7 linked regions of the Homo sapiens genome follow. The protein of the gene in region 5 purifies or fractionates together with the protein of the main gene of each other region. This does not show direct contact. Each region holds a gene or a part of one and is shown on either strand. Other genes may lie near its edges. The genes, in order: NFXL1, EIF2AK4, SBF1, ZNG1C, DHDH, ARHGEF4 and BLTP2.

Evidence for each region.
Region 1: the proteins of DHDH (region 5) and NFXL1 purify together in Homo sapiens (affinity purification with mass spectrometry; one large-scale study listed by BioGRID and IntAct). This does not show direct contact.
Region 2: the proteins of DHDH (region 5) and EIF2AK4 purify together in Homo sapiens (affinity purification with mass spectrometry; one large-scale study listed by BioGRID and IntAct). This does not show direct contact.
Region 3: the proteins of DHDH (region 5) and SBF1 purify together in Homo sapiens (affinity purification with mass spectrometry; one large-scale study listed by BioGRID and IntAct). This does not show direct contact.
Region 4: the proteins of DHDH (region 5) and ZNG1C purify together in Homo sapiens (affinity purification with mass spectrometry; one large-scale study listed by BioGRID and IntAct). This does not show direct contact.
Region 6: the proteins of DHDH (region 5) and ARHGEF4 purify together in Homo sapiens (affinity purification with mass spectrometry; one large-scale study listed by BioGRID and IntAct). This does not show direct contact.
Region 7: the proteins of DHDH (region 5) and BLTP2 purify together in Homo sapiens (affinity purification with mass spectrometry; one large-scale study listed by BioGRID and IntAct). This does not show direct contact.

Annotation. Positions count from the first base shown.
Region 1 is NC_000004.12:47,883,401-47,887,359, reverse strand, and holds part of NFXL1 (NF-X1-type zinc finger protein NFXL1), read left to right. Parts: intron 1-1,360; coding exon 1,361-1,481; intron 1,482-1,702; coding exon 1,703-1,862; intron 1,863-2,922; coding exon 2,923-3,014; intron 3,015-3,959.
Region 2 is NC_000015.10:40,027,872-40,031,830, forward strand, and holds part of EIF2AK4 (eIF-2-alpha kinase GCN2), read left to right. Parts: intron 1-1,534; coding exon 1,535-1,593; intron 1,594-2,487; coding exon 2,488-2,585; intron 2,586-3,959. UniProt on the Homo sapiens protein: Metabolic-stress sensing protein kinase that phosphorylates the alpha subunit of eukaryotic translation initiation factor 2 (EIF2S1/eIF-2-alpha) in response to low amino acid availability.
Region 3 is NC_000022.11:50,464,648-50,468,606, reverse strand, and holds part of SBF1 (myotubularin-related protein 5), read left to right. Parts: intron 1-145; coding exon 146-231; intron 232-683; coding exon 684-821; intron 822-913; coding exon of another isoform or gene 914-916; coding exon 917-1,075; intron 1,076-1,158; coding exon 1,159-1,269; intron 1,270-1,896; coding exon 1,897-2,002; intron 2,003-2,124; coding exon 2,125-2,257; intron 2,258-2,348; coding exon 2,349-2,457; intron 2,458-2,532; coding exon 2,533-2,646; intron 2,647-2,766; coding exon 2,767-2,844; intron 2,845-3,278; coding exon 3,279-3,392; intron 3,393-3,477; coding exon 3,478-3,606; intron 3,607-3,689; coding exon 3,690-3,788; intron 3,789-3,868; coding exon 3,869-3,959. UniProt on the Homo sapiens protein: Acts as an adapter for the phosphatase MTMR2 to regulate MTMR2 catalytic activity and subcellular location. Promotes the exchange of GDP to GTP, converting inactive GDP-bound Rab proteins into their active GTP-bound form.
Region 4 is NC_000009.12:68,293,811-68,297,545, forward strand, and holds part of ZNG1C (zinc-regulated GTPase metalloprotein activator 1C), read left to right. Parts: intron 1-3,735.
Region 5 is NC_000019.10:48,932,031-48,936,657, reverse strand, and holds the start of DHDH (trans-1,2-dihydrobenzene-1,2-diol dehydrogenase), read right to left. Parts: upstream 2,960-4,627; 5' UTR 2,937-2,959; coding exon 2,847-2,936; intron 1,659-2,846; coding exon 1,547-1,658; intron 627-1,546; coding exon 463-626; intron 1-462.
Region 6 is NC_000002.12:130,835,049-130,839,797, reverse strand, and holds the start of ARHGEF4 (rho guanine nucleotide exchange factor 4), read right to left. Parts: upstream 2,885-4,749; 5' UTR 2,845-2,884; coding exon 2,806-2,844; exon of another isoform or gene 2,804-2,805; intron 1-2,803. UniProt on the Homo sapiens protein: Acts as a guanine nucleotide exchange factor (GEF) for RHOA, RAC1 and CDC42 GTPases. Binding of APC may activate RAC1 GEF activity. The APC-ARHGEF4 complex seems to be involved in cell migration as well as in E-cadherin-mediated cell-cell adhesion.
Region 7 is NC_000017.11:28,638,473-28,642,431, forward strand, and holds part of BLTP2 (bridge-like lipid transfer protein family member 2 isoform 1 precursor), read right to left. Parts: intron 3,864-3,959; coding exon 3,803-3,863; intron 3,607-3,802; coding exon 3,417-3,606; intron 2,212-3,416; coding exon 2,088-2,211; intron 1,554-2,087; coding exon 1,429-1,553; exon of another isoform or gene 1,425-1,428; coding exon of another isoform or gene 1,415-1,424; intron 1,171-1,414; coding exon 1,103-1,170; intron 989-1,102; coding exon 843-988; coding exon of another isoform or gene 833-842; exon of another isoform or gene 589-832; intron 171-588; coding exon 52-170; intron 1-51. UniProt on the Homo sapiens protein: Tube-forming lipid transport protein which binds to phosphatidylinositols and affects phosphatidylinositol-4,5-bisphosphate (PtdIns-4,5-P2) distribution.

The sequences.
Region 1 (3,959 bases), on a different chromosome or scaffold from region 5:
TTAAGCCAGGATATTGTCCATCTTTAATCTTTTTTTTATCAGGTTAACTCCCGGTCCATGTTTTGCTTGGTCCTGACACCTAGGCAACAGTCTCTTTAAGATATTCATTTCTTCATTGAAAACTCTTCTTCCTTTATTATTTCATTTCTGATAGAGTTCCTTACTGGGAAAACTAGAGTGGAAGAAAGCCCTTAAGATGATGACAGAACCTCTTGGAGCGAACTTTATAGCCTGCTTTAAAGATTTCTTTGATTTTGTTTTTTTATATTTTTGCCAACCCATAACAAAAGAGCGTAAAAAGCTGAAACCAAAATAACATTTTTTTTTATGTTTAGAAGAGAAATATTTGGGATTATATCCTAAAATGGTGGCTTAGTACTTAGTCTTTCACAAAGCACAATTAATGGAAAATTGACTGTGCTTGCTACTAACCAATATCAGGTCATGAGAAAGAAGTTATTGGGAATTCATCTAAAAATTGTGTACTTGGATAGATGTATGAAAGTAGGCCAACGATATTATTGTTAATGTTAAATTTTCCAAAGACTTAAATCCATTTTTGCTTGTTTTAGTTTTGAATGAGTAATGTGTTAAATTTGTTATTTAGAACAGAAGTTTTAGCACATTTTAGAGAAATGTCTAAAACTTTATGAGGTACCAGTGTACAGAGAAAAAAGTGTTATAAATCAGAGGCTGGGTGCAGTGGCTCACGCCTGTACACCCAGCATTTGGGAAGCTGAGGTGGGAAGATTGCTTGAGTCCAGGAGTTTGAGACCAGCCTGGATGACATAGTGAGACCCCTCCATCTCTATAAATAATCAAAAATTAGCTGGGCATGGTGGTGTGTGTCTGTAGTCCCAGCTACTTGGAAGGCTGACGTGGGAGGATTGCTTGAGCCCAGAAAGTTGAGGCTGCACTGAGCTGTGATCATGCAACAGCACTCAGCTTGAGCAACAGGTTGAGACCCTGTTACAAAAAAAAAAAGAGAAAAGTATTACAAATAAAAAGTATACAGCTTGTTGAATTTTTACAAACTGAACATAGCCAGGTAACCAAAACTTACATCATTAAACAGAACATGACCAAAATTTTCAACACCTTCCTTGCATCCTTCATAGCTATCACTCTGATTTTGAACAGTACATTTTTTCTTGTTTACTTTATATAAATGGAATCATGCACTATGTACTCCTTGTGTCTGGCTCAATGTTTTGTGGTAAGATTCATTCATGTTGTTGTAGTTTCTTCATTCTTGTTGTAGAGTATCCCATTGTGTGAATATACTAAATTTATGTATTTTACCATTAATAGGCATTTGGGTAGTTAAGGAAACTTTTTAATTGTCAGACTTTTTTTTCAGGCAGTTGCTATCCCTGCCCAGAAACCGTAGATGTGAAGTGTAATTGTGGCAATACAAAGGTGACAGTGCCCTGTGGCCGAGAACGTACCACAAGACCACCCAAGTGCAAGGAGCAATGCAGGTGAGTTTGAAGCTTTGCACAAGCTTCCATCTGATGTTGTACAAATTTAAATTCATATTGGCTTTTAATAATTTAATTTTGCTTTAGTGTTTTAAAATATTAATATTCACAGTATACTCATTCTATATGGAATCAGAAGATATGTAAATAGATAATTGTCCTTTAGATGTAATTATTCAATGACTAAAAGTAATTTTTGAAAATTGTACTTTATGATTTAGTCGACCACCAACTTGTCATCATACAAGTCAAGAAAAACATCGCTGTCACTTTGGTTCTTGTCCACCATGTCATCAACCTTGCCAAAAAGTTTTGGAGAAATGTGGTCACTTGTGTCCTGCTCCGTGTCATGATCAAGCATTAATAAAGCAGACTGGCAGGGTAAGGGAATAATACTATTAGAGAAATAGTGCATTGCTGTGGGTTGTACTTTCTTGCTTTTACTTAGTTTTTCAATGAGCAATGATTAAGCACTTATTGGGAAGCACTGTGCTTGGAGCAGGGTACAAGGTAATCAAGACTTGATTTTGTTTTAAGCAACTCACAGTGTAGGAAAGGAGTGAAACCATTGTTTGCAAATACAGTGTGATAGTTACATTATGATCATGATACAGGTGAATTTGGCAGTCCTCCTTCATATATTGTGGTTTAGGGTTATAGATATCTCCTATAATCTTATTTTAAAGATTTATTCACTTTTTAATATTTTATTTAATATTTATTTATTTTTAGTTATTTAATTTTTTTTTTTTTTGAGACGGAGTCTCACTCTGTTGCCCAGGCTGGAGTGCAGTGGTGTGATCTGGGTCACTGCAACCTCCACCTCCCGGGTTCAGTGACTCTCGTGCCTTAGCCTCCTGAGTAGCTGGGATTATAGGTGCCTGCTACCATGCCCAGCTAATTTTTGTAGTTTTAGTAGAGATGGGGTTTCAGCTTGTTGATCAGGCTGGTCTCGAACTCCTGACCTCAAGTGATCTGCCCGCCTCCGCCTCCCAAAGTGCTGGGATTACAGGTGTGAGGCACCACGTCCAGCCCAGCCTCATGAACATTTATTGAGCCCTTACTAAATATCAAGCTTTTTTTTAGGTGCTGAGGAACAACAGTGAGTAAAATGATGGAGATTATATTCAATTGCTAGATGTTGGAGTTTCCAATTGTTTTTCTCATTTCCTTATTGGAAGTAAAGGAGGCTACACTGCCTTTGTTCTACCATTTATAAACTGGATTCTGTCTCAGTTATTAATATCAAATGTCTGTGGAGAGGAACAATTTCATTTAATACAGATAAAATGAAATATTTCAGTAAGCACAATTTATTGATTATTTGAAAAAATTTCAACCTGCTTGAGCAGAGGATACATGGAACTATTTTCTTAGATTCTTAAAATGGCCATATGATTTAATCCCTCTGACTTAAAATTCTTATGTATTTTATTTGTAGCACCAGCCTACAGGCCCTTGGGAACAGCCTTCTGAGCCAGCATTTATTCAGACTGCATTACCGTGTCCTCCATGTCAAGTTCCTATTCCTATGTAAGTATTAGAATTTCAATTAAAAAAAAAAAACAAAAAACTTTTGACATAGCTTAAAGGGTATCTGAAGTCAATCTCCCTTTTTTCTTAGTTCAGTTCATTATTATTTCAGGCCTAGCCTATCAACTAGTGTGTCTGTCTTAACCTTCATTCTTTTCAAACATGTTTGTCATACTTGCATATAAACCTACTATAGATATCTTTTTTTGAGTCTTTACCCCCAGTTGGAGTTTGATGCCCTTCTTAGCTTTCCATAGCGAGTGCATGCAATTACAAAAACAAATCCAAGGAACATCATTTGTTACTTTTCCCGATGATTCCCATACTGGATTGTAAGCTCCCTGAAGACAGAAGAAAGCCAGGTTTTAGATAAGGCAAACTTGGGGAATATTTAAAGGAAGCCTTGGAAATGAGAGGAAGTAGTTTCCTGGATGGGCCAGTGAATGACTGGGACTGAGCTCTAAGGAGCTGAACCTACAGTAATACGGAATCCTGGAATTTTTTATACTTCCAGCAGAGGTTATGGAGTATAGGGGAAAAAGCACAGAATGCTGAGAAGCAACATAAAGTTAGAAAAGGGGCTGTTGTCTACAACTGAGGTGCCAAATTAAACATTGGTATTTCTGGTGTATTGGTCTTTTAAAGAGAGGATTGTTTTTGTTTTTTAATTCTAAAAGCTTTCATTTCCACAACATTCCTCCCAGTTGAAATAGCATGTATATTTTTGTGTATTGGTCACACAGTCAAGTTGGGAGGCAAAGTGTTGTTAGGAGATATATGCACAAATAGGGTAATTTTAGTCTGTAGATTTAATGGAGGTGGGCTGTGTAGTTAGCAGAGAGGTTTTTCATGTAGGTATTCAGTTATTTGAGACTATTCTTTTACTGAGGACTTAAGTTATAATCATGAGGAACCAAGTTGTTGCTAATATCTCTAAGTTAGAAT
Region 2 (3,959 bases), on a different chromosome or scaffold from region 5:
AGAGCGAGACTCTGTCTCAAAAAAAAAAACAAAAAGAACAACAACAACAACGAATATATAATCCCATTTTGTTTTAAACAAAATATACAACCTATACATAAAAAAATGTCTAGAAGAACGTACCAAATTTTTAATTGTAGTTTTGGTTAGTGGGATTACAAGGGATCTTAAATTACTTTGTTAAGCTTTTCTATATATTTGCAACTCCTTTTTTTTTTTTTGAGATAGAGTCTCACTTTTGCCGAGGCTGAAGTGCAGTGGTGTATACATGACTCACTATAGCCTTAACCTCCCAGGCTCAGGTGATCCTTCCTTCTTGGCCTCCTGAGTAGCTGGGACCGTAGTCATGTACCACCTTGTCCAGCTAATTTTTTTAAATTATTTGTAGAGACAGGATCTCCCTATGTTGCCCAGGCTGGTCTCCAACTCCTGGACTCAAGCAACTCTCCCGCCTCAAGAAATTCTTATATGTATGCTCATTATCAGAAAATACCACACGGTAATTTTTCTGGCTTACATCAGCAATTCTCAACCAACAATGATTTTGCTTCCCAGGGCACATCTGGCAATGTATGGAGACATTTTTGGTTGTCACAACTGGGGAGTTTTACTGGTATCTAGGAGAGGCCAGGGATACTGTGAAAACATCCTAAAGGGTACAGGACTACTACCCCCCAACAGAGAATTTTCTGGCCTAAAATTTCAGTAGTACCAAGATTGGGAAATCCTGGCTTACAGAAAACAAACCTTGCTCTGTTCTTCTCATGCCCCCACCCCTTCTTATTTGCACCTAGCCTTAATAAATTCACCATTAGGTGTTTCTGAGGGAACATAATGTTCTGGAAATCACCAGTATTGGAATTATAGATCTAAATCAAAGACAGAGGTTTAGAAGAGAAACCAAGAAATAGCCAAGTAGTGAGTATGGGGGAACATTACCAAGACACTTAAAAGGCTACATGGGATTTAGTTTTAGCAGGGAAAGGTTCAAAGTTTTTCCTCCAGCAAATGATTATTTCCCTGTTTTCCCAAGATAGAGTGCTGTTGTCTCTCTCAAAGGCTATAAATTAATTCACAGCATTTGAAAGAACATCCATTCACGGCTTTTTAAAGAATATCTTTATTTACCAAATGTTCTCCTGTGGGTGGTTGCCAAGGCTACTGCCATAATGAAGGTGGGGCTGCTGTTATTCATGTTTCCTTGTATTATGAGGGGGGCGGAAAGAACACCCATTATATTTCATTGAAATCAGCTTATTGTGTGGATCCAGGATTTCACGCCCAGCTGAATAAATCAGAATGTTTTCCTTAGGCATTTGTTAACTTAAAAAGACATCCTTTATAATTTTTACTTGCTCTTGACCAAAGCATAACTAAATGCAAATTTTTTGTTTTTGTTTTTCCACCAATAACCAAGAAGATGTTTTTATATTTAATGGAAAAGTGGCTCACTATACATGTAGTTCACTGTAAGTTATGTGTTGCTTGTGCCTTATTGACTGTTCTTTAATTGTTTTTGTTTGCTTGTTTTTAGAGAAGCTTCCGATAATCTTGCAGTGCAAAATCTGAAGGGGTCATTTTCTAATGCTTCAGGTATAATTACTAATTATAATCTGAACATAATGATGCTTATATGTTTGCTCTAAGCACTTATTACTGTAGCTAACTGCTTGTGACACTGGAAATCTATTTTTAAAATAACATATACGCAATAAATTGTACCACATGGGATGCATCCCTATGCTTTGAAATCCACATCCTAGAAAAGGATAAAACAACTGGAATTTAGCTGACTCTTCTACTCTATCTCTTATTTTTACAAGTGATTTAATCTTCCTTTTACTCAATTTATTGTACAAGTGAAATGTGTATAATTTTCCTGGAGATTTTCCTCATACAGAGGATTGAAGGAAGTATTTTGAAATCCCTTGAAGAAGGACACTATACACATTTTGTTTTCGTGAAAGCCAAGAGGGCACAGTGGTGATAGTTATGCCTTTGCTTTCATCACCTCTAGCAACCTTACTTCTTTTTTAAAGAAGTGTTCCAATTAAGGCCATGAGAAGACATATTTGGCTTTTAACAGAATTGAGTCTTTCCCATTCTCTTCTGTTAGCACTAACTTTGTGTTGCCATCAGATTTCCAATTCTTGCAGGAATTTAAAGAAGTATGCAGGTTTGGTGATATTCAGCTTGATTTTCTTAGGCCCCTGAGGTTTTGATGACTCCTGTTGCCTCCCTGCCCCTTCCACCACCCCCCAACCCCTGCCTGAGGAGAGAAGCATCAAAACTGCTGGGTGTTGGGGTTCTGGGCTCCTCACCTATCCGGTGCAGATGGTTGTAGGGATAGAAAACACAGCCCAGTCGTGATCTAGCCCTTAGAATCACGACAGGATGTCTACTAATAAACTCTGCCATCTCTCTGTAGTATGTTGTAGAAAGTGGGACCAGATAAGGCCATAAATTCTGAAACTCTCTTGGTCTCAGGTTTGTTTGAAATCCATGGAGCAACAGTGGTTCCCATTGTGAGTGTGCTAGCCCCGGAGAAGCTGTCAGCCAGCACTAGGAGGCGCTATGAAACTCAGGTACACTGGGTCAGGGTTTCTTTGGCTTTCTAATATGAGTTACAGAAGAGAAAAACAACAACAGGAAAGGAAAATAAGATAAACATGGAATTTCTTGGAAATATTTTTTCCAAGAAAAAAATTTTTCTTCCAACTTGCCTAACTGGGTGGCTTCTGGCTCCAGGATTCCCATCTGTCCTTCAGAGAGGGGCCATTGTGCACTGTGGGCACCTCAAGGCAGCTGTTGTCAGAGTGACTGCATCTAAATGAAAACTATCTAATCTGGCTCTAAAGGTAGTTGAGGTTTGTTTGTGCTCTAAATAGCAAAGTAGAAGAGGCCGATGACAAGACTTAAGGCAGGCTTCTCATTCCATACATGGTTTCGGCATTTGCTATATGCCTACTGGTGTGCTAAGGGCTGTGTAAAATGTAGAAAACATTAACATGGCCCCAGTCCTCAAAAGAGTTTATAACTTAGAAGCATATGCATTATATAGAGAATAATAAAAGCAAATAAATATAGGCCAGGTGCGGTGGCTTATGCCTGTAATCCCAGCACTTTGGGAGGCCGAGGAGGGCGGATCACTTGAGGTCAGGAGTTCGAGACCACCCTGGCCAACATGGTGAAACCCTGTCTCTACTAAAAATACAAAAATTAGCCAAGCGTGGTGGCAAACGCCTGTAATCCCAGCCACTCGGGAGGCTGAGACAGGAGAATTGCTTGAACTGGGGAGGCAGAGATTGCAGTGAGCCAAGATCATGGCACTACACTACAGCCTGGGCAACAGAGCAAGACTTTGTCTCAAAATAAAATAACTACAGTAGAACACTGAGTTAAATTTATAGAATATGAATGTTAGAGTATGCTGTGGACATATGCAAAAGAGTGAGTGTTAAAAGAGAGCAGTCAATTTTAGAAATGTAATCAGACTGAAATACAAAAATCAGGTACTTTATTTTTGTAAGCTCTTCTAGCTGTTTCTCAGGATTTGGGTGGAAACCTATTTTTCCCGTCTTCCTACTGCCTTCATCACCTACCAAGTTTCAGTTCTCACACCATGTCCTCATTGCTGCCACCTCTCCCTTTTTCCCAATTTAGCTTCATACTATCATCTCTCTGTCTCTGTGTGCACTGTTTCACTGCGCTACGCCTTTATAAGGAATCATTTCAAAATTATGAAGAGATAATTGACAAGGATTATTAAACAAATGGTCAAGATAAGTTATAAAAACCTCATTTCCCCTGAGATCATATTGCTAGACACCCCTTTCTGAGTGGATTAAGAGCAAATCTTCTTTTTTTTTTTTGAGACAGAGTCTCACTCTGTCACCCAGGCTGGAGTGCAGTGGTGCAACATCAGCTCACCACAACCTCTGCCTCCCATGTTCAAGCGA
Region 3 (3,959 bases), on a different chromosome or scaffold from region 5:
ATACGGAGCTATTTTTAGGGAGCTGTGGCTGATCTGGTGCCAGATGAGGGCCCAGTGGGTGGGAATGTTTCCACCCTGGGATCCTCAAGCCTCCTGGTGGGTGGGGGGCGGGTTGGGTGCTCTGACCCCCTGTTCTTGTCCTCAGGGAGTGGGGAAGGCCAGGGCCAGATTCTGCAGCGCTTCCCAGAGAAGGACTGGGAGGACAACCCATTCCCCCAGGGCATCGAGCTGGTGAGTTGGGGGCGTGCTGAGACGGTGCTGGCAGGTGGGGAGGGCAGGTGGGCACAGCCCTGCCCTTGTCCCTGACTGAGGGGCCTCCACAGTGCCCGGCCCCCCGCTGGGCTAGGGACAAGACAGCAGAGCCTCTGTCGGGGGGTTTGACCGGCTTGGCCGGCGGCCTGTGCGGTGCTCATGTCACTGTGTCATGTTGTCACTCACTCATGATGGTGGGGACTGTTCTCCCATCTCCTGGTCCTTGCCCCAGGTGGGGAGGTCAGAGGCTGTTACTCCCTTCACCCGGAGAGACTGAGGCCCAGGAGGCCACGTGTCCCCAGGGTCTCCAAGCAAGGAGCTGCCTGTGTGTGTTGGAGCCTCCAGGCCTGGTGGTGCAGATGCTGGGGCGGGTGGGCTGGTTCCTGCCACAGGTGTAGGGGGAGGAGCTGACTGCTGAGCCTTCCCTGCAGTTTTGCCAGCCCAGCGGGTGGCAGCTGTGTCCCGAGAGGAATCCACCGACCTTCTTTGTTGCTGTCCTCACCGACATCAACTCCGAGCGCCACTACTGCGCCTGCTTGACCTTCTGGGAGCCAGCGGAGCCTTCACAGGTCAGCTTGGGGCCTCTGGGTACAGCATGAATGAAGCTGCATCCTTGGGCCGTGGCCAACTCCCCCTGCCCCCGTCTCCCCCTGACCCCCAGCAGGAAACGACGCGCGTGGAGGATGCCACAGAGAGGGAGGAAGAGGGGGATGAGGGAGGCCAGACCCACCTGTCTCCCACAGCACCTGCCCCATCTGCCCAGCTGTTTGCACCGAAGACGCTGGTACTGGTGTCGCGACTCGACCACACGGAGGTGTTCAGGGTGAGGCCGGCAGCCGGGGCGGCGAGGCACGACGAGGGTGCTTCCATCGGCTGTCCCACCACTCCCCGCTCTGGTCATTGCAGAACAGCCTTGGCCTCATCTATGCCATCCACGTGGAGGGCCTGAATGTGTGCCTGGAGAACGTGATTGGGAACCTGCTGACGTGCACTGTGCCCCTGGCTGGGGGCTCGCAGGTGAGTTTTGGAGGCAGCTGGTATCTGCACAGCCACAGGCCCTCCTGCTGGGGCCCTGGTAGGTATTTGGAGCCCAGCCAGAGCCACACACAGCTGGAGGCCTTGGATGCTCCCTCTTGCGTCCTCGTGCCACCATTGCCCCCAACAGTCCTGGCCTGCTTACCTGGCCCTCGCACCTGTGCTCTGGGCCTGTGTCGTTCAGCCTCTCTGTCCACTCCTTTGATGGTGTGTGCCTGTCTCTGGATGTTGATGTCAGCTTGTTTGTCTGCTCCCTGCCCTGTGCCTGGGTGTGTTGGAGTGTCTAACCGTGTCTTTCTGCCCGTCTGTCCTGTGCAGCTGGACTCTGTTGAGGAAGGAGCGGTATGGATTCTTTGTTTCTTCCGCCCACCTAGGCCCCATCCCTACCCCCAAGTCAAAAGCAGCCACTCCTGTCCTGAGTTTTCTCTGCAGCTGCTTGGGACAACAGAGGCAGGGCATGGCGTTTCCCTCTTGCCATGTTGCCCATCCCAGCCAGTCCCACCTCGGGTCTGTCAGTACACCAGGGTCTGCCTGGGGACACAGAGCTCTGGGCTGACTCTGGGCTGGCTCTGGCCAAACTACTGAGCCCCGATCCTTTTTTTGCTGCAGAGGACGATCTCTTTGGGGGCTGGTGACCGGCAGGTCATCCAGACTCCACTGGCCGACTCGCTGCCCGTCAGCCGCTGCAGCGTGGCCCTGCTCTTCCGCCAGCTAGGTGAGCCTGTCTGTCCCACCCCCGCATGGCTTCCCCTCGGGGACTGGTAGTTAGGGATGTGGGTTCTCACTCTGCCTGGGTGGGGGCCCAGGGTCCTCTCCAAGCTTCTCTTCTTCCTTTAGGCATCACCAACGTGCTGTCTTTGTTCTGTGCCGCCCTCACGGAGCACAAGGTTCTCTTCCTGTCCCGGAGCTACCAGCGGCTCGCCGATGCCTGTAGGGGCCTCCTGGCACTGCTGTTTCCTCTCAGATACAGGTGACCCCTGCCCGGCCCTCCCAGCCCCTTCTCCTGGCCCCTTTGCCCAGCCGCGTCCCCTGGCTCACTGCATCCTCTGGGGCCTGCACAGCTTCACCTATGTGCCCATCCTGCCGGCTCAGCTGCTGGAGGTCCTCAGCACACCCACGCCCTTCATCATTGGGGTCAACGCGGCCTTCCAGGCAGAGACCCAGGAGCTGGTAAGGGCTGTGCTTTGTGTCCACCTCACGGCCCAGGCCTGCAGGTCCCTGACTGCCGGCTCCCTTGGTCCGCAGCTCGATGTGATTGTTGCTGATCTGGATGGAGGGACGGTCACCATTCCTGAGTGTGTGCACATTCCACCCTTGCCAGAGCCACTGCAGAGTCAGACGCACAGTGTGCTGAGCATGGTGAGGGGCACCATGGGCAAGCGGGAGCCTTGGGGGCCTTTGGGATGTGGCTACCTGGCAGCACGGGGAGCCTAGAGCCGGGGCCAGCGTGCAGCTGCCTGCTCCATTCTGTGCTGGCAGGTCCTGGACCCGGAGCTGGAGTTGGCTGACCTCGCCTTCCCTCCGCCCACGACATCCACCTCCTCCCTGAAGATGCAGGTGGGGGTCGTTGCTGCTCCTGCATGGGGACCCCAGGCACTTAGGCTGCCCCCACTCAGGTCTGCTGCCACTGACACACAGGGCCCCACCCCCAGGCTGGCCCCGGCTCCAGTAGCAGAAGCAGGAGCCTGGGAGCAAAGCAGCTGCCAGCAGTTAGGAGTGGTGGTCGTGAGTGGTGCAGGCGAGGCGGCAGGGGCCCAGCAAGGGGCTGGAACTTGGCGTCTGATCACAGGAGCCCTTGAGGGTGCTGAGCCAGGAGTGCCTTGTCCAGACAGTTTCAGAGGAGCTGGTGGCCCTGAGTGCAGAATGGTGGGAGGGGCAGAAGGATGGGAGCGGGGCAGCTTGGGGTGGGTTGGGGTGTGGAGAAGCTCCTGGGCAGCCTGGGGTGGGGATTGGCAGGACTGGCTCTCACCTGCACTCAGCTCTTCTCCCAGGACAAGGAGCTGCGCGCGGTCTTCCTGCGGCTGTTCGCTCAGCTGCTGCAGGGCTATCGCTGGTGCCTGCACGTCGTGCGCATCCACCCGGAGCCTGTCATCCGCTTCCATAAGGTGGGGTGCCTGGTGGCTGGGCGTGGGGTAGGAGATAAGCGCATGGTGGAGACCCCTGAGGGACCGACCTCCTTCTGTCATCCAGGCAGCCTTCCTGGGCCAGCGTGGGCTGGTAGAGGACGATTTCCTGATGAAGGTGCTGGAGGGCATGGCCTTTGCTGGCTTTGTGTCAGAGCGTGGGGTCCCATACCGCCCTACGGACCTGTTCGATGAGGTGCACCTCCACCCTGCCCTCCCAGCCCCCTGCCCTGGCTCCGCCTGACCATGGCTTACCTAACCTCCTGCTTACCCCGCTAGCTGGTGGCCCACGAGGTGGCAAGGATGCGGGCGGATGAGAACCACCCCCAGCGTGTCCTGCGTCACGTCCAGGAACTGGCAGAGCAGCTCTACAAGAACGTACGAGGGTAGCAGGACGGGAGGGCGTCGTACCGCCTTGATCCCTGGGCCCCTGCCCCACACCTGCCGTCTCCCCACAGGAGAACCCGTACCCAGCCGTGGCGATGCACAAGGTACAGAGGCCCGGTGAGAGCAGCCACCTGCGACGGGTGCCCCGACCCTTCCCCCGGC
Region 4 (3,735 bases), on a different chromosome or scaffold from region 5:
AAACTATACCTTGGAACAAATGGAGTTAAAAGATATATACAGAATATTCCATCCAACAACCACAGAATATACGTTCTGTTCAACAGCACATGAACTTTCTGTAAGATAGACCATATGATAGCCAACAAAATGAGCCTCAATAAATTTTAAGAAAATTAAAATTATATCAAGCACTTTCTCAGACCACAGTGGAATAAAACTGGAAATCAACTCCAAAAGGAACCTTCAAAACCATGCAGATACATGGAATAACCTGCTCCTGGATGATCTTTGGGTCAAAGATGAAATCAAGATGGAAATGTAAAAATTCCTCAAACTGAATGACAATAGTGACACAACCTATCAACCTCTGGGATACAGCAAAGGTGGTGCTAAGAGGAAAGTTCATAGCCCTAAATGCCTACATCAAAAAGTTGGAAAGAGCACAGACAATCTAAGGTCACATCTCAAAGAACTAGAGAAACAAGAACAAACCCAGCAGAAGAAAGAAGATCAGAGCGGAATTAAATGAAATTGAAACAAAACAACAAAAAAATCCAAAAGATAAATGAAACAAAAAGCTGGTTCTTTGAAAAGATAAATAAAATTGATAGACCGTTAGCAAGATTAGCCAAGAAAAGAGAGAAAATCCAAATAAGCTCAATAAGAAATGAAACGGGAGATATTACAACTGACACCACAGAAATACAAAAGATATTCAAGGCTACCATGAACACCTTTACATGCATAAACTAGAAAACCTAAAATAGATGGATAAATTCCTGGAAAGATACAACCCTCCTAGCTTAAATCAGGAAGAATTACCCTGAACAGACCAGTAACAAGCAGGGAGATTGAAATGGTAATTAAAAAATTACCAACAAAAAAATGTCCAGGACTAGACGGATTCACAACAGAATTCCACCAGATATTCAAAGAAGAATTGGTACCAGTCTTAAAGACACTATTCCACAAGAGAGAGAAAGAAGGAATCCTCCCTAAATCATTCTATGAAGCCAGTATCACCCTAATACCAAAACCAGGAAAGGACATAACCAAAGAAGAAAACTACAGACCAATATCCTTGAACATAGATGCTAAAATCCTTAAGAAAATTCTAGCTAACTGATTCCAACAACATATCAAAAAGATAATCCACCATGATCAAGGGGTTTCATACCAGGGATGCAGGGATGGTTTAACATACACATGTGCGTAGCCAAAGCAAGACTAAGCAAAAAGAACAAATCTGAAGGCATCACATTACCTGATTTCAAACTTATACTATAAGGCCATAGTCACCAAAACAGCATGGTACGGTTATAAAAATAGGCACATGGACCAATGGAACAGAATAGAGAACCCAGAAATAAACCCAAATACTTACAGCCAACTGATCTTCAACAAAGCAAACAAAAACGTAAAGTGGAAAAAGGATACCCTTTTCAACAAATGGTGCTGGGATAATTGGCTAGCCACATGTAGGAGAATGAAACTGGATCCTCCTCTCTCACTGTATACAAAAATCAACCCAAGATAAATTAAAGACTTAAATCTAAGACCTGAAACTATAAAAATTCTAAAAGATACCATTGGAAAAATCATTCTAGACATTGGCTTAGGCAAGGATTTCATGAACCCAAAAGCAAATGCAATAAAAACAAAGATAAATAGCTGGGACTTAATTAAACTAAAGAACTTTTGCAGAGCAAAAGGAAAAGTCAGCAGAGTAAACAGACAACCCACAGAGAAGGAGAAAATCTTTCATAATATATACATCTGAAAAAGAACAAATATCCAGAATCTACAATGAACTCCAACAAATCAGCAAGAAAAGCAGTCCCATCAAAAAGTGGGCTAAGGACATGAATAGACAATTCTTAAAAGAAGATATACAAATGGCCAATAAACATATGGAAAAATGCTCAACATCACTAATGATCAGGGAAATGCAAATCAAAACCACAGTGCGATACCACCTTACTTCTGCAAGAATGGCCATAATAAAAAAATCAAAAAAATAGTAGATGTTGGCATGGATGTGGTGAACACGGAACACTTCTACACTGCTGGTGGGAATGTAAACTAGTACAACCACTATGGAAAACAGTGTGGAGATTCCTTAAAGAACTAAAAGTAGAACTACCATTTGGTCCAGCAATCCCACTACTAGATATCCACCCAGAGGAAAAGAAGTCATTATACAAAAAAGATACGTGCACACGCATGTTTATAGCAGCACAATTCGCAATTGCAAAAACGTGGAACCAACCCAAATGCCCATCAATCAATGCGTGGATAAAGTAACTGTGATATATATACATACAATGGAATACTCCTCAGCCATAAAAAGGAGTGAATTAATGGCATTCACAGTGACCTGGATAAGATTGGAGACTATTATTCTAAGTGAAAGAACTCAGGAATGGAAAACCAAACATCGCTATGTTCTCACTCATAAGTGGGAGCTAAGCTATGAGGATGCAAAGGCATAAGAATGACACAATAAACTTTGGGGACTCAGGGAGAAAGGGTGGGAAGGGGATGAGGAATAAAAGACAAAAATTGGGTGCAGTGTATACTGCTCAGGTGATGGGTGTACCAAAATCTCACAAATCACCACTAAAGAAGTTAACCAACACCACCTGTTCCCCAGTAACCTATGGAAAGAAAGAAATGTCTCATATGTTTCTGCCTAAATTGGTCTTTAATACTTTAGCGATTCTCTTGAGTTTGGATTATAAAATAGTTTTTGGTCTTTTTGTATTTTCTGCTGTAAGCCTGTATGATTATGTAATGGTGAGTAAAATTGCTAGGCCAGATACGCAGTTCTAGGAAGTTATGCAAAGATGTGCTTTAGTATATTATTTTCTACCTTTTTAAATTCATTTTGAGCTTGGCTTTTGAGCCTCTATTTTCCAAGGTGGGGTGTATGTTTTTATAATGTTATGCTTAGCCCTTGTGTATTTTCATCTCTGAGTTTGAAATTTGGGGTTATATTGGCAAAGGGAGGTTTGGGTTTTAATTAGGTGACCTGTTAGAGGAAATGTTAAGCTTCTGTTTCTTTAGGGTAGACAGTGAGAGATTTATCAAGATAAAGAAGAAAAATAAATCCTAAAGTTAATATTCAATACATGATGATGTCACCCTTACTAAAGCCAAAGAGGGCATTATCCTATCATTCTCATCGCTAAGAACTCTTCTCCTCTTGGCACATGCTTATTCAGTTAAAGATAAGCCAAGCCTTTCTTTTGTATTTTTTTTTTAAGAGAACAAATTTACTTTGGTTTTGAGTTTTATTCCTGGCTCTGGGTAGCTTATTTTTTTGACCCTTATTTTCCCCAATTTATAAAATGAAATAGTTATCTTCACTCCCCAGGATTGTTGTGAAGAGTAAGTCAAAAGATACAATGAGGTGACTCAGGCAAAAGTACCTGGCCCTGTGTAGTGAGTACATTGTATGTGTTACATATATTCTTATTCCTGAGAATCCACGAAAGAATGAATTAAATAATGAGGACCCTTTCATCAGGGTTTCTGAGTGAGTTTTTTAAAATACAAGGTAGTAGTTTGTGTAAATACTAAATCCATTGGTACCTGTGCAGAATGTAGGAAATGGAGTTGCTAATTCCAAAAAAACAGCACATATGCTGAGGAAAGTATAATACGTAATATATATGGTTTAAGCAATGTAAAATTCCATGAATATGTTCCTTTCATCTTAAAATTTGTGATTTAAAAAACATTGATATTACT
Region 5 (4,627 bases):
GTGGCGCAATCTTGGCTGACTGCAAGCTCCGCCTCCCGGGTTCACGCCATTCTCCTGCCTCAGCCTCCCAAGTAGCTGGGACTACAGGCGCCCGCCACCACGCCCAGCTAATTTTTTGTATTTTTAGAAGAGATGGGGTTTCACCATGTTAGCCAGGACGGTCTCGATCTCCTGACCCCGTGCTCCGCCCGCCTCGGCCTCCCAAAGTGCTGGGATTACAGGCATGAGCCACCGCGCCCGGCCGGCATCTTTTTCTTAAAGACTGACAAAAGATCCAAGCAATTTCAGTAAGCCTTGCCGTGTTTGCTAAGGGCCAAAAGCAATGGCTTTCACGGTAATAGATGCTGCCAAGGAGATTCAGATACATCCTGGCAAATGCACTGACCCCGTCCGCGCACTGGCAACCATATTTAATGGCAAGCACTTTTACGCTGGATATTGGAAGGGCTCCTCTGCCCTCACCTCCATAAGGAAGAGGGCTCGGGATCGGGCCTCCGCGACCATCTCGCGAACTTCCGCCGCGTTCACGCCCGTGGGCTTCTCGCACAGAACGGCCTTGCCCGCCGCCAAGCACAGCATCACCGCCGCCTTGTGCTGGGGGTGCTGGGTGCCAATGTAGGCCACCTCTAGGGTGGGAGTAGGTCAAGAGGTCAGCAGCCCCGCCCACCCAGACAGCCGAGCTCCGCCCACAACTTCGAGGCCCCGCCCTAGCACCCAGGGACCAGGTGGTCGGTCACACCCCTGTCTCCCTTAGGGAGCTGTCCTTAGGAAGGGGCTGTTACCTCTCGCCATTCTCGCTCTCTTTTTTAAAATTTTTAATTAATTAATTAATTTTTTTTTTGGAGGCGGAGTCTCACTCTTCGCCCAGGCTGGAGTGCAGTGGCGCGATCTCGGCTCACTGCAAGCTCCACCTCCCAGGTTCACGCCATTCTCCTGCCTCAGCCTCCCGAGTAGCTGGGACTACAGGCGCCCGCCACCATGCCCGGCTAATTTTTTGTATTTTTAGTGGAGATGCGGTTTCACCGTATTAGCCAGGATGGTCTCCATCTCCGGACCTCATGATCTGCCCGCCTTGGCCTCCCAAAGTGCTAGGATTACAGGCGTCAGCCACCGCGCCCGGCCTATTTATTTATTTCTAAGACCAAGTCTCACTCTGTCGCCCAGGCTGGAGTGCAGTGGCGCGATCTTGGCTCACTTCAACCTCTGCTTCCCGGATTCAAGTGATTCTCCTGCCTCAGCCTCCCCAGTAGCTGGGATTACAGGTGCGTGCCACCATACCTGGCTAATTTATTTTTATTGTTATTTTTTGTAGAGATTGGGTCTTGCTACGTTGCCGAGGCTGGTCTCGAACGCTAAGTGTAGTTTAACACCTACTAGACAGCCAGTCCCAGACCAAGCCCGTTTTATAGTTCTCCTCCCAGCCAAAGGTCTTTATGGAACCCAAAGGGATTGGACCATCCTGAGGAGCCTTGCATCTCCCAGGGGGCAGCCAGGGGGCACCGCTCCAGGGGCGGCGGCCAGCACCCCCATCGCCCTCGCCACTCACCCACGCTCGGGTCCTTGGCCAGCTCCTCATAGGAGCCGTAGGCCTTGGGGATGTCGTGTTTCTGTGCAAACTCCTTCGCACGGCTCAGATCGCGGGCCGCCACCGCCACCACCTGGAGGGGCACAAGAATCGGATTTGAGGGGCTGAGGCAGGCGTGGAAACTGGGTGGAAGGGAGGCAAAGGAGGAGGCTCTGGCCAGGGGAAGGGGAGACGTGGTCCTGGGGGAAGAGATGACGGGGGCTGGACATTTGGGCCCTGGGAAAGAGAGATCTGGGGGAAAGCCGTTATTAAATCCCCCAATATTGAAATTATCTTCATAGTAGCTTACATCAAGGCCTTTCCAAACCTCAAGACACTCAGGTTTGTGTGGGGAAAAGAAAGAGAGATCAGATTGTTACTGTGTCTATGTAGAAAAGGAATCTGTATCATGAATAAGTTCAAGGAAAGGTGCTGTGACCGGATGTGCACGTAGGCTAGATTTATGTTTCACTTTACACAAACATCTCAGTGTAGCAAAGAGTAACAGAGCAGTATCACTGCCAGCATATCTCGCCTCCAGCCACAGGTAGGTTTTCTCCTATCTCAGAATAGAAGGAATGGGAATGGTCCGCTTTACACTGAGACAGTCCATTCCCAGGGAGAGCAGGAGACAGAAGCCTTCCTCTTATCTCAACTGCAGAGAGGCCTCCCTCTTTCACTACTCCTCCTCAGCACAGACCCTTTACTGGTGTCGGGCTAGGGGATGTAAGGTCTTCCTTTCCCACGAGGCCATATCTCAGGCTTTCTCAGTGGGGGGAAACCCTGGACAATACCCAGGCTTTCTTGGGCAGAGGTCCCTGCGGCTTTCCGCAGTGCAATGTGCCCCTGGTTAATAGAGAATGGAGAATGGCGATGACTTTTACCAAGCATACTGCCTGCAAACATATTGTTAACAAGGCACATCCTGCAAAGCCCTAAATCCATTAAACTTTGATTCAATACAGGACATGTTTCTGTGAGCACACGGTTGGGGCTAAAGTTACAGGTTAATAGCATCTCAAAGCAGAAACAATTTTTCTTAGTACAGTTCAAAATGGAGTTTCTTATGTCTTCATTTTCTACGTAGACACAGTAACAATCTGATCTTTCTTTTCCCCACAGGTTTGCAGAACAGAGATGGAGAAGGAGGTAGCAAGGAAACAGACGTTTCACTGCAATGACGACCCACTCACTAGTCCTGAACCCTAAACTCCCTCCTCCTTTAGACTCTGGAGTCCCGCCCCCCGCCTCCTCTTCCCCAGAATCCGGAGGGCGGGCAGACCTGGTGCTCAGAGCGAGGCAGCGTCTGCAGCACGGCTGTGAAGTCGCTGGAGATGAGGCCGACAGACACGATGCCCCAGCGCAGCGCCATGGTTGCGATGCGGAGCCCTCGGCACCTTCGGTCCCTCCAGGCGCGAATTAAGTACCTGACGCCCCGCCCACCCCGGGGGCGGGTCCCCATCCTCCGCCCGTATTGCGCCTACGCCGATTCTCGTTGGCTCCAGTCGGCAGAGCGGTCATTTAGTTCTAGCTTCCCCGCTGGGCGAATGCACCGTTTAGCTCCGCCTTACAGAGGGAACCACACCTTGACGTCGCTTCTACAGATCTCTTACCTATGACTTTAGGCTCGTCGGATACGCGGGGTAAGGACAGCGTGGGGAGGAGAGGTTTGCTTTCTTGCCAACACCAATCCTTGAGAGTTAGATTTAATGTCTTGCCCTCTGGACTTTGTGGCAAAACTTTGCCCTGACTTTTTTGCTCTCAAAGCCACGCATCATTAGGGGTTGTTCACAGAGAGAGAGAGGATTGTAACAGCAAACTTAATAATTATTACTAATATGTATAGAGCACCTGTAGACCAGCTCCTCAGCTCTGCGCTTTACCTTCTTCGTTCCTAATTTCTCCCCGCAGACCTGGGAAGTAGCTTCTATTGTCCCCAGTTCACAAAGGGGGAAACAGACTCCAAGATCCCTGGTCATTTTTTGGAGGTCTCACAGTCAGGAGGTAAAGACCTGTGAATTGGCTGCTTCCAGAAGCTATAGTTTTAGAAACCAGGCTGCTTTGCTTGTTAGGAGCCCCAGAGCCTGGCCGACTGGTTTCAAAACCCTCCTTGCCCCTTCTTGGCTGTATTGCTTTTGGACAAGAGGTCGCCCTCTCTGGTCCTCACTTTTCTATTCTGGAAAGCAGAGATCATGATAACATCTACCTACATAGGGTTGTGAGGAGGATTCATTGAGCTCTATGGTCTATTATGTAAAATATACTGTATTATTATAATTATTATTGATATAGGGTCTCGCTCTGTCGCCCAGGAAGGAGTGCAGTGGCACAATCATAGCTCACTGCAGCCTCAAATTCCTTAGCTCAAGGAATTAGCTCCTGCCTTAGCCACCCTAGTACCTGGGACTACAGTAGCTGGGACCCAAAGTAGCTACTGGCTACTACACCTGGCTAATTATTTTGTTTTATTTATTAATTATTTTAGAGATAGGGTCTCACTCTGTTACCTAGCTGGACTGCAGTGGCGTGATAATAGCTCACAGCAGCCTTGTACTCCTGGGCTCAAGCTATCTTCCCGCCTCAGCCTCCTGAGTAGCTGGGAGTATAGGCATGTGCCCCACTTACCGCTATTTGTTTGTTTGTTTGTTTGAGACGGAGTCTCACTCTATCCCCAGGCTGGAGTGCAGTGGTGTGATCTCAGCTCACTGCAACCTCCGCCTCCCTGGTTCAAGTGATTCTCCTGCCTCAGCCTCCTGAGTAGCTGGGACCACAGGCGCCCTCCACCATGCCCAGCTAATTTTTTTTATTTTTAGTGGAGACAGGGTTTCACCATGTTGGCCAGGATGGTCTCGATCTCCTGACCTTGCGATTTGCCTGCCTTGGCCTCCCAAAGTGCTGGGATTACAAGCATGAGCCACTGCACCCAGCCTGCTAATTTTTGTTGCTGTTGTTGTTTGTTTTTTGTTTTTGAGACGAAGTCTCGCTCTGTCATCCAGGCTGGGGTGATCATGCAGTGGCATAATCTTGGCTCACTGCAACCTCCACCTCCCAGTTTCAAGCAAT
Region 6 (4,749 bases), on a different chromosome or scaffold from region 5:
GGGGGTCCAGCTGTCTGGAACATTTTGAAATACACCCTCGAAATCAAAAGTCATGCTTGGCCCACACACGATGCTGGGAGGGCCTCTGGATTTTTGAGACAACATATTTTCCTTTTGGGTGTGCTGCTCCTCTGACTCATTTGCTGGGTGACCCCCAAGGCGGCGCACCTGTGTGGGCCCCTGGCAGGTGCAGGCTCTCCGACTGGTCTGCCTGCACGGGGAGGGACTCTGCCACACGACTGTCATGCCCCATGGATCCCACGGTGCCCAACGTGCCCAAGCAGATCTGTGTGCTGTACAGAGTCTGTACCAAGTGCCACCAGAAGGCACACCTGGGGCCTTGGGGTCCTCCTCCTGGGCTTGGTGGAGACTAGCTGCATCTTGGCTAACAGAGTCTGACTGGGAGACCCAGACAATCTGAGGTTCCCAGAATGAAGTGGCCTTTTCTGGCCCAGTCCAGCACCCATCATCAGGGGTACCTCATAGGACCAATCCCTGGGGACACCAGGAGGCACCAGGCGGTGACTGAAGCACGTAGCTCCTCTGCCCACCCCACAACCTGTGTCCTCACGGGGTATTCCTTACGACCAGTGTCTGAGAGGAACAAGTATGAACTACGTTGTCGGTGGCTCGGCAAGACACACTCACACAGCCAGAAGTGGACTGCTGTGGCAGTCAGAGCCCCTCCCATGTGGACAGCAGAAAGGAGACCCTCTGAGGGGCACAGGTGATGCTTCCTGTGGTGTGCATGGGGAGGCCTCAGGTGTCTCAGGACCTACAGGGACCTGAGGCAGAAAGTATGGAAAGGCCTCTCTGAATAGATGGGGAACTGGAGGACCGTGTGTGTCAGGAATACTTTCACAAAGGCCAAATCCCAGGAGCCTCCCAGGCAGCAGCAGGCAAGGTGGCTGCCCAGAGATGTCCAGTGGTCTCTCCTCCAGCCACACTCCACCTGCTCCTGGAGCTTCTGGGGCCAGCTGGGTGACTCAGATTCTGCCCAGGCATCTTGGATTCTGTCCGGCCATCTTCCCCTCACCTGGGCAACTCCTTGCCACCCTTGCTGTGGGTGCAGCAGAACCAAGGTCCAGGGCTCACCACTTCATAAACACACTCACGTTTCTTTCCTTCCTTCCCTCCCTCCTTCCTTCCTTCCTTTCCTTCCTTCCTTCCTTCTTTTCTTTTTCTTTTTTTTGAGACGGAGTCTCGCTCTATCACCCATGCTGGAGTGCAGTGGTGCTATCTTGGCTCACTGCAACCTCTGTCTCCCGGGTTCAAGCAATTCTCCTGCCTCAGACTCCCAAGTAGCTGGGATTACAGGCGCCCACTACCGCGCCCGGCTGATTTTTGTATTTTTAGTAGAGACGGGGTTTTGACATGTTGGCCAGGCTGGTCTCGAACTCGTGACCTCAGGCGATCCGCCCCCCCCACTCGGCCTCCCAAAGTGCTGAGATTACAGGCATGAGCCACCGCGCCGGGCCACACTCACATTTTCTAATAAGACCTTCACACTAACCCTGAAAGGTGTGGAGGGCATGGAAACATCACCCACATTTTTCAAAACAAAGACCCAGGTGGTTATGTGATTGTCCCAAGATTGTACACCTCCTCAATGACAGAGTCGGCATTTGAAGGGGGTCTGAGCTCTTCCAAGCCATCTCCTACACTCACCAGCACAGGTTCCTGAAAGGCTGCCTTCCCGGCTGTCCGGCCCTCTCCACTCTTGATGCCAGCGATCACTTCGTTATCGCTGGGGGTGGGAGCTGATGCCAGGCCAGCGGATAGGCTGAGGGCAGGGCTCCTGCAGGTCTGCCCTGGGTCACCTGGCTTCCTGCCCCTTTCACTAGAGCTCTCAGGGCCACAGAACTCCGACCTCAACCTCCCGTCTTCAACTCCGGGAGAAGATGGCTGCACAGCCAAGTAGGGCGCCCTCCCGCCCTCCCGCCCCGACAGCCCCACACAGGTCTGCCTCCCCCTGGACCTGCAGCTGACAGCTGGTGGCTCTTCCCCGCCTCTCCTTTCATGCAGTTGCTCCCGGAGTAGGAGCCCATCGGAGCTCAGCACCACCCAGCGTCGCAACCGCCCTCCCGCTGGCTCACCTGGGGAGGTCGGGCTTGGCAACCTGTGGCCGGCCACCCCTGACAGTGCCCCGGAGCCCCCGGCCCATCTTGGGGTTCCTGTGGGGGCAGCGAGGTGGAGGCGTCCCAACTGAGTGGGTCCCGGATGGTGAGCGGGCCCGGAAATCGGGCCAGAGAGGGGGCACCCCGAGCAGGAGCCCAACAGCCCCGACCCCAGTTCCAGCCCCTTGCCGCTGCTGCGCCCTCGCGTACTCTCAGCCTGGGGAATAACAACAGCAACCACTTCTCCCGTACCCACCGGGCCGGCACCAGCCCTCCTTCCCAAAACAGCTGGTACTGCGCCAAGCGGCAGAGGCTCCGAGTGCCCTGCGCGCCCAGGCCGGTCCAGGCAGCGGCTCCGAGTGCCCCGCGCGCCCAGGACGGTCCAGGTGCGGGGAGGCCGGCTCAGGCGCTCGCCCTTGCCCTCTCAGGGGCTCGCCCCGGGCCGCCGTCCCTACCGCCCCCAACGGAGCCCCGTCCTTCCCCGCGCTCGAGACGGCCCCACTTTGCAGGACGCCGCCTCCGGTCTGCACGTCGGAAAGTTGGGAGCGGCGGGGAGCCACGAGGGTGTCCCCACCCACCGGGTGCCCAGGGGACGGCCCGGGGCGCAGCAGCCAGCGCGGGCTGTGCTCCTCCCCACCCGCGCAGGGCGCCGGGAGCCCGACCGCAAGTCCCGGACGCCGGCTCTCACCTTGAAGAAGCTCCGGAGGAAGTGCACGACGCTGAGCATGGTGGCCGCCGGGACGCCCGGAGCCCGGCCGCAGCACTACGAGCCGCGCCGCCGAGCCGGCTCCACCGACGCCACCCCGCGCCCCGCCCTAGGGTCCGCCCCCGCGCCCTCGCCCGGACGCTCCGCCCCCGCAAACCTGGCCACTGGAGGCACGTGAGGTCCAGGCTCCTGCCCTGCCCGCCCCTGGGCTTTGGTCACCCGCGGGACTGGGCACGCACAGGCACACAGCAGAGCCGTCCACAGACCCGGCCCAGGGGCCGCCGGGATCATCCCGCCCAGTCGAGCTCTTGGGCCCCCTTGAAGCCTAGGAGTGTTTTCTCAGAGAGAAAGCAGCACGCTTCTTGCGCATTTGCACATCTCCAACGCAGCGCTTCGGCCTGTCCTCCGCACTGGAGACTCAGGTGCCTCCGCCCTCCTGAGAGCAGGGGCGGCCTCTCTGCTGAGAGTTCTGATTGTCAAGCTCCCAGAACTTTCAGAGTTCAGTCCGCCCAGCGTTCTTGTTTACCAGTTGAGGAAACGGAGGCCCAGGGAGGCTGTGCAGCGCGCCGGCACTCACACACCTGGTGGGGACAAATGTGGACTAGGATATCTGGGACCGAAGTCTTGGCCTCCAGCTCCCTCTTGCCTCCCACTTACCTTTCCAGGTATGTCCTGCAGATAGGATGTAAGTGAATGGTCACACCCGTAACCATTAAGGAGCGCAGCTTTCTGCTAAGGGGCAAAGGGAAGTCCTCGCTGCTTTCTTTGCAGGGGTTTAAGGAGACAGGGCCTGCCAGGAAACACTCTAACCAGCCCTAGGACCGCACTATTTTAAATCAGAAGAAAAAAACTGAGTATAATAAAATAATAATGAATCTAGCCTGGAGTATATTCATCTTTATATGAATGCAGTTGTAAACTCTAATTTTAACTATTTTATTTTATGCAGGAAGAGGCCCACGAAAGCTAAGACCCCAAGGCCCATGTGCACCATACTGCAGCCCTGCTCTGTCCACCATTTCTGAGATCGGCGCCCCACAGAGGGAGAGCATCTGCCCAGACTGGCTTTTTGCACCCCTGCTCAAGCCTGCACCCTCGTCCAAGTCCTAGCCCCACTGAACGCTATGCCTGGTCAGCAGTGCGTGTCAGGGGTGCCTGGCAGAGTGTGCATTTTCCGTACACCCAACCTGTCTCTGCCTCTCCCCAGGCCCTCACAGCAACCAGGCCAGGCGAGAAGCTTGGGAGATAGATACTCAGAGGAGGCACTGTGGGGCCATCTGAAGATCCTGCGTCCCCTGTCACAGCCTTTATGTCACTCAGGGTCCATGACTGTGCTAGAAGCATGTCCCTGAGGCCCATGGTGGTGGGAGGAGGGTGTGGGATTCGGATCTGGGCACCTGGCTGTGCTGCACACCAGTTGTGTAATCATGATCATCTGCTCTAAACACGTATCTTTAACATTCGAGAGGAATGACCGCCTGGTGGGGTTGCCATGGAGAGTACGTGAGAAATTAAACCTCACAGGTGCTTAGCAAAAGTTAATTCGCTCTTCTCTGAAGGCTTAAAGTGCTAATCCCCTGGCGAGGGGGGAGGTCCAGTGAAAATACACAACCCCTGGCCACAGGTTCCATTGTTGTCTGGACTCCTCTGACCAGTGGACAGCCCTGGACCTGGGTTCTCAGACCTGAGTCAGAACCACGTGGAGGACACCATAGAGCTTAGGCTGCTGCCCCTCACCGCTGCCCCCCTCTCACAGGATCTGGGGTGGGGCCTGGGAATTTGCATTTTAACATGTTTCCAAGTGACCCTGAAGCTGCTGGCCCTGGGACCACACTTAGAGAACCCCTGGTTCAGGCTATGGGGCCTGGGCCAGGCTCGCCGTCTAGCAGAGGATCAGACCCCAGGTTGGAGCATAACCGTCATGAT
Region 7 (3,959 bases), on a different chromosome or scaffold from region 5:
TAGCTCCACTAACGGACAGATTCTTGTTCCTATTCCATCTGAGAGCCTTACCCAGAGAGATAGAATTGAATCCCAAGGCAAAAGGTGGTGTATCTCCAAGTTGAATGGAAATGTTGACATTGGAGATGGAGGTGCTAAAGATGATGGGAGCCAGGATTTGGGGGAAGGTTCTGCATAGGAACAAGACATCATTGTTTGGTAAGAAAAGAACTGCAGCTTCCTATCATGGAACAGTTTCTGAAGCTCTCACAATCAGAGTGAGAATTCAGAGTTTTATTGTGATTCTTAGGACGAGACACACCTAGAAGATAAAAGGCTGAACTCATCAGTTTATTGCTACTCTTAATGGTAATCTGCAGGAACCCCAAAAGGATATTAGGTTGACTCATATAAAATTATCATTTTCATAGGCCAAATACAATGAACACCAGCAATACTATACGCTTGAACCTAAAATAACCAAGAAGCATCACTTCTAAACCATAACCTTAAGTTCTCTGTGCAGCACAATAGAAGCACTACACAAAGACATGACTGCCACCTTACAATCAAAGGCAGGCAAGACAAAGACATTCCTTATCATTTAAGTTCAGTTCAACAAACATTTATTTTGTATAAAACACTACACTGAGCACCGAGGACATAAAAACAAAGAGGACAGCATTCTGCTATCAAGGAGTCTAGTCTAATGGGAAAGATATATAAAACAGGATTGCTGTTGAGACTCGGATTTGAGGAGGTCAAACAACCAAATACATATTTAACACAGGATGCCAATTTGGACCAAAAGAATCCCAGAGAATCCAACTGACAAGAAGGTGGCTGAAAAAGATCAGACTGACCTTTTTTTCCTTTGCTTTAGAACAGGTGAACTAGACCCTTGGGTTTCCAGTGCTAGCAGGTGCAGCCAGTGAGAGAATTCCTGGTGCCGGTAGTGAATGATGCAAGTGTTCAGAACTAGGGAGGCTGAGAGGTCAATGGTGGTCACCTGAAATAAGAAGACCAGAACTGTGGGTTTGGGTTTTATTTCACAAACTCAAAACGAAATAATGTAGCGGGAGAATAGAGAAAGGAACAATTCTTGGTACCACAATCATCACACCTGCACACTAGCCTTGAGGGAGTTGAGGCAGACAATGCGTTGGCGACTCTGGGACAACAACAACCCATCTGTAAGAGGCCAGAGGACAGATCAGAGGAGAGCACTGGAAGGGCAAGAGGTAAAACTGGGAGAGGGTCAGAAGCCGGCAAAGGGATCAACAGACTGTCATCAAAACTTGTGAGCTGGGGCTATTTTCTCTCAGTATGTTCCCTCCTTCCACTCCCCAGTTACACTGAGATTAGATTAAGGAGACCATATGGGGCATGAGCAAAGAGAGTATCTAGTCCTCCCATTCTCGCTCAGTACCAGTACCCCGACCCATGAACCTTCCAGCAGCAGTTCAGTGCTCATCTGTGCCATATCAGAGTTTGCTGTGAAGCTTCGAAGGGGCAGCTGATCCTCATCACGGTGGTACAGGAACTGCAGCAGCTTCAGAGTCCAAGTCAGGTGCCTGGACCGAGACAGATTCCAGCTCAGGAAGATGTGGAATGCCATTCCTACTTCTTTTACTTTTATTTTTTAAAAGTAATTATTTTTTGGCCAGGCGCAGTGGCTCACTCTTGTAATCCCAGCCCTTTGGGAGGCCGAGGCAGGGGGATCACGAGGTCAGGAGATCGAGACCATCCTGGCCAACACAGTGAAACCCTGCCTCTACTAAAATACAAAAAATTAGCCGGGCGTGGTGGCACGTGCCTATAATCCCAGCTATTCGGGAGGCTGAGGCAGGAGAATCGCTTGAACCTGGGAGGCAGAGGTTGTGGTGAGCCAAGATCGCACCACTGAACTCCAGCCTGGGCAACAGAGCAAGACTCCGTCTCAAAAATAATAATAATTTTTTTAATTTTTCCCACACTACATGGATGTAACCATTTCTACTTCCTTTCTCCCCGTAGACAAGCTCAGCAAATACTAGGCTGGTTACAGAGATACCAACATACAGCTCCCACTATCACTCTCCCATCTTCTGTGTCAGGAGAGACCTCACCTCTTTTGACTATTCATGGACAATACCACGCTTGTGTTCTCCATCTTAACCTTGACCTGGTCTGGCAGCTGCTGGAGAAGGAATAGGCCAGGCAGAGTTGGCTCAACTAAGTTTTCTGTCACCTCTGAAAATATGAATGAATAACGTAAGAACCATCAATTCTTAACACTCCCAGTTCTCCCGAAATGCCCTGGCCTCTATGGTCAAATCCTCCCACATAAAGTAGGCTAAGCAAATGCCTAAGCTGGATGGACCATAAGGCGAATGCCCCAGAGATCCAGGCACCTGCAGTACTTCTTTCTCCAGTCTCTAAAAACCTAAAGAGTACAAGGAGCAGGTTGGTAAATGAAAAGAATGTGGACCTTAGGGCCAAATAATTTAAACATCATTTTTACTACTGACTGCCTGTATGACTTCAGTCAAGTTACCTAGCTAACCTTCCTAGGCTTCAGTTTCCTTATTTGTGAAATGCTGAGGATTTAGTTAGAGAATATACAGTCATCCTTTGGTATCCTTGGAGCTTTGGTTCCAGGACCCCCTGCAGATACCAAAGTCCGCACATACTCAAGTCCAGCAGTTGTCCCTGTGGGAACTCATGTATACAAAAAGTCAGCCCTCCATATTGGTGAGTTTCATATCCTGCAAATATTGGCATTTTCCATCCACACTTGCTTGTGGATGCGGAACACACAGATATGGAGAGCCAACTGTATTTATTGAAAAAAATCCACATAAGTGGATCCGCACAGCTCAAACCTGTGTTGTTCAGTGGTCAACTGTATATAAAACACATAGTACAAGGCCAGGCATGGTGGCTCACGCCTGTAATCCCAGCACTTTGGGAGGCCAAGGCTGGCGGATCACGAGGTCAGGAGATCGAGACCATCCTGGCTAACACGGCGAAATCCCGTCTCTACTAAAAATACAAAAATTAGCCAGGCATGGTGGCGGATGACTGTAATCCCAGCTACTCAGGAGGCTGAGGCAGGAGAATCACTTGAACCCAGAAGGTTAAAGGTTGCAGTGAGCCGAGATCACGCCATTGCACTCCAGCCTGGGTGACAGAGCAAGACTCCATCTTTTTTTTTAAAAAAAAAGGAAAAAAAAAAAACCCATAGTACAGGTCTAACTCATGATAGGTGCCCACTCAATGCTGGTTCTGCCACTCAGCACAAGCAAATGCCCTATTTCCTCTAACTATCCTTAGGGTCAAAGTCCATGGTGACTAGTGAATCACATCTAAATAAGCAGTGAGACCACTATTTTTTCTACTTCCAAAACAAACCCTGAGAACAAGGCAGCCAAGAAGCTCAATCACTGGGGCTTTACCTGAACAGGGAACAGGCTTAGATGCTAGGCTTGGGCCCTGGCACAGCAGTTGGCTCTGGAAGAGGCCCTCATGCAGTTCAGCATGGAGTGTCCACACATCCACAGTGATAGCAGTGAGATGCCGACTGCTAATGCCCACCTTTAGACACAGGTCCAGGGCCAGTGAAAGCTCCACTAGGCAGGTGTCCTCCTGTGGGGATGATAAGCCTCTAAGGTGTATGTAAGAAAGTTTGGAAGTTTTAGGTCAAAATGTGGTGATCTGGAACACTGGGTACTGACTTGAGGGAACCCCCTAAGGTCAAAGAACCTAGGATGTAAGCCCTAAGCTCCTTCACACTTTACGCCCAGGAGGAAATGAGGCATCTGAATGATCATGGCATACTTACCAGCTGACCACTCTTTAGAACTTTGCTGTTGATCTTACATAAGCTCACCTCACAGATTAGCCTGGGAAAGGAAAAAAATTAAGAGCACTTGGCCTTGCCGGGCGCGGTGGCTCACGCCTGTAACCCCAGCACTTTGGGAGGCCAAGGTGGGAGGATC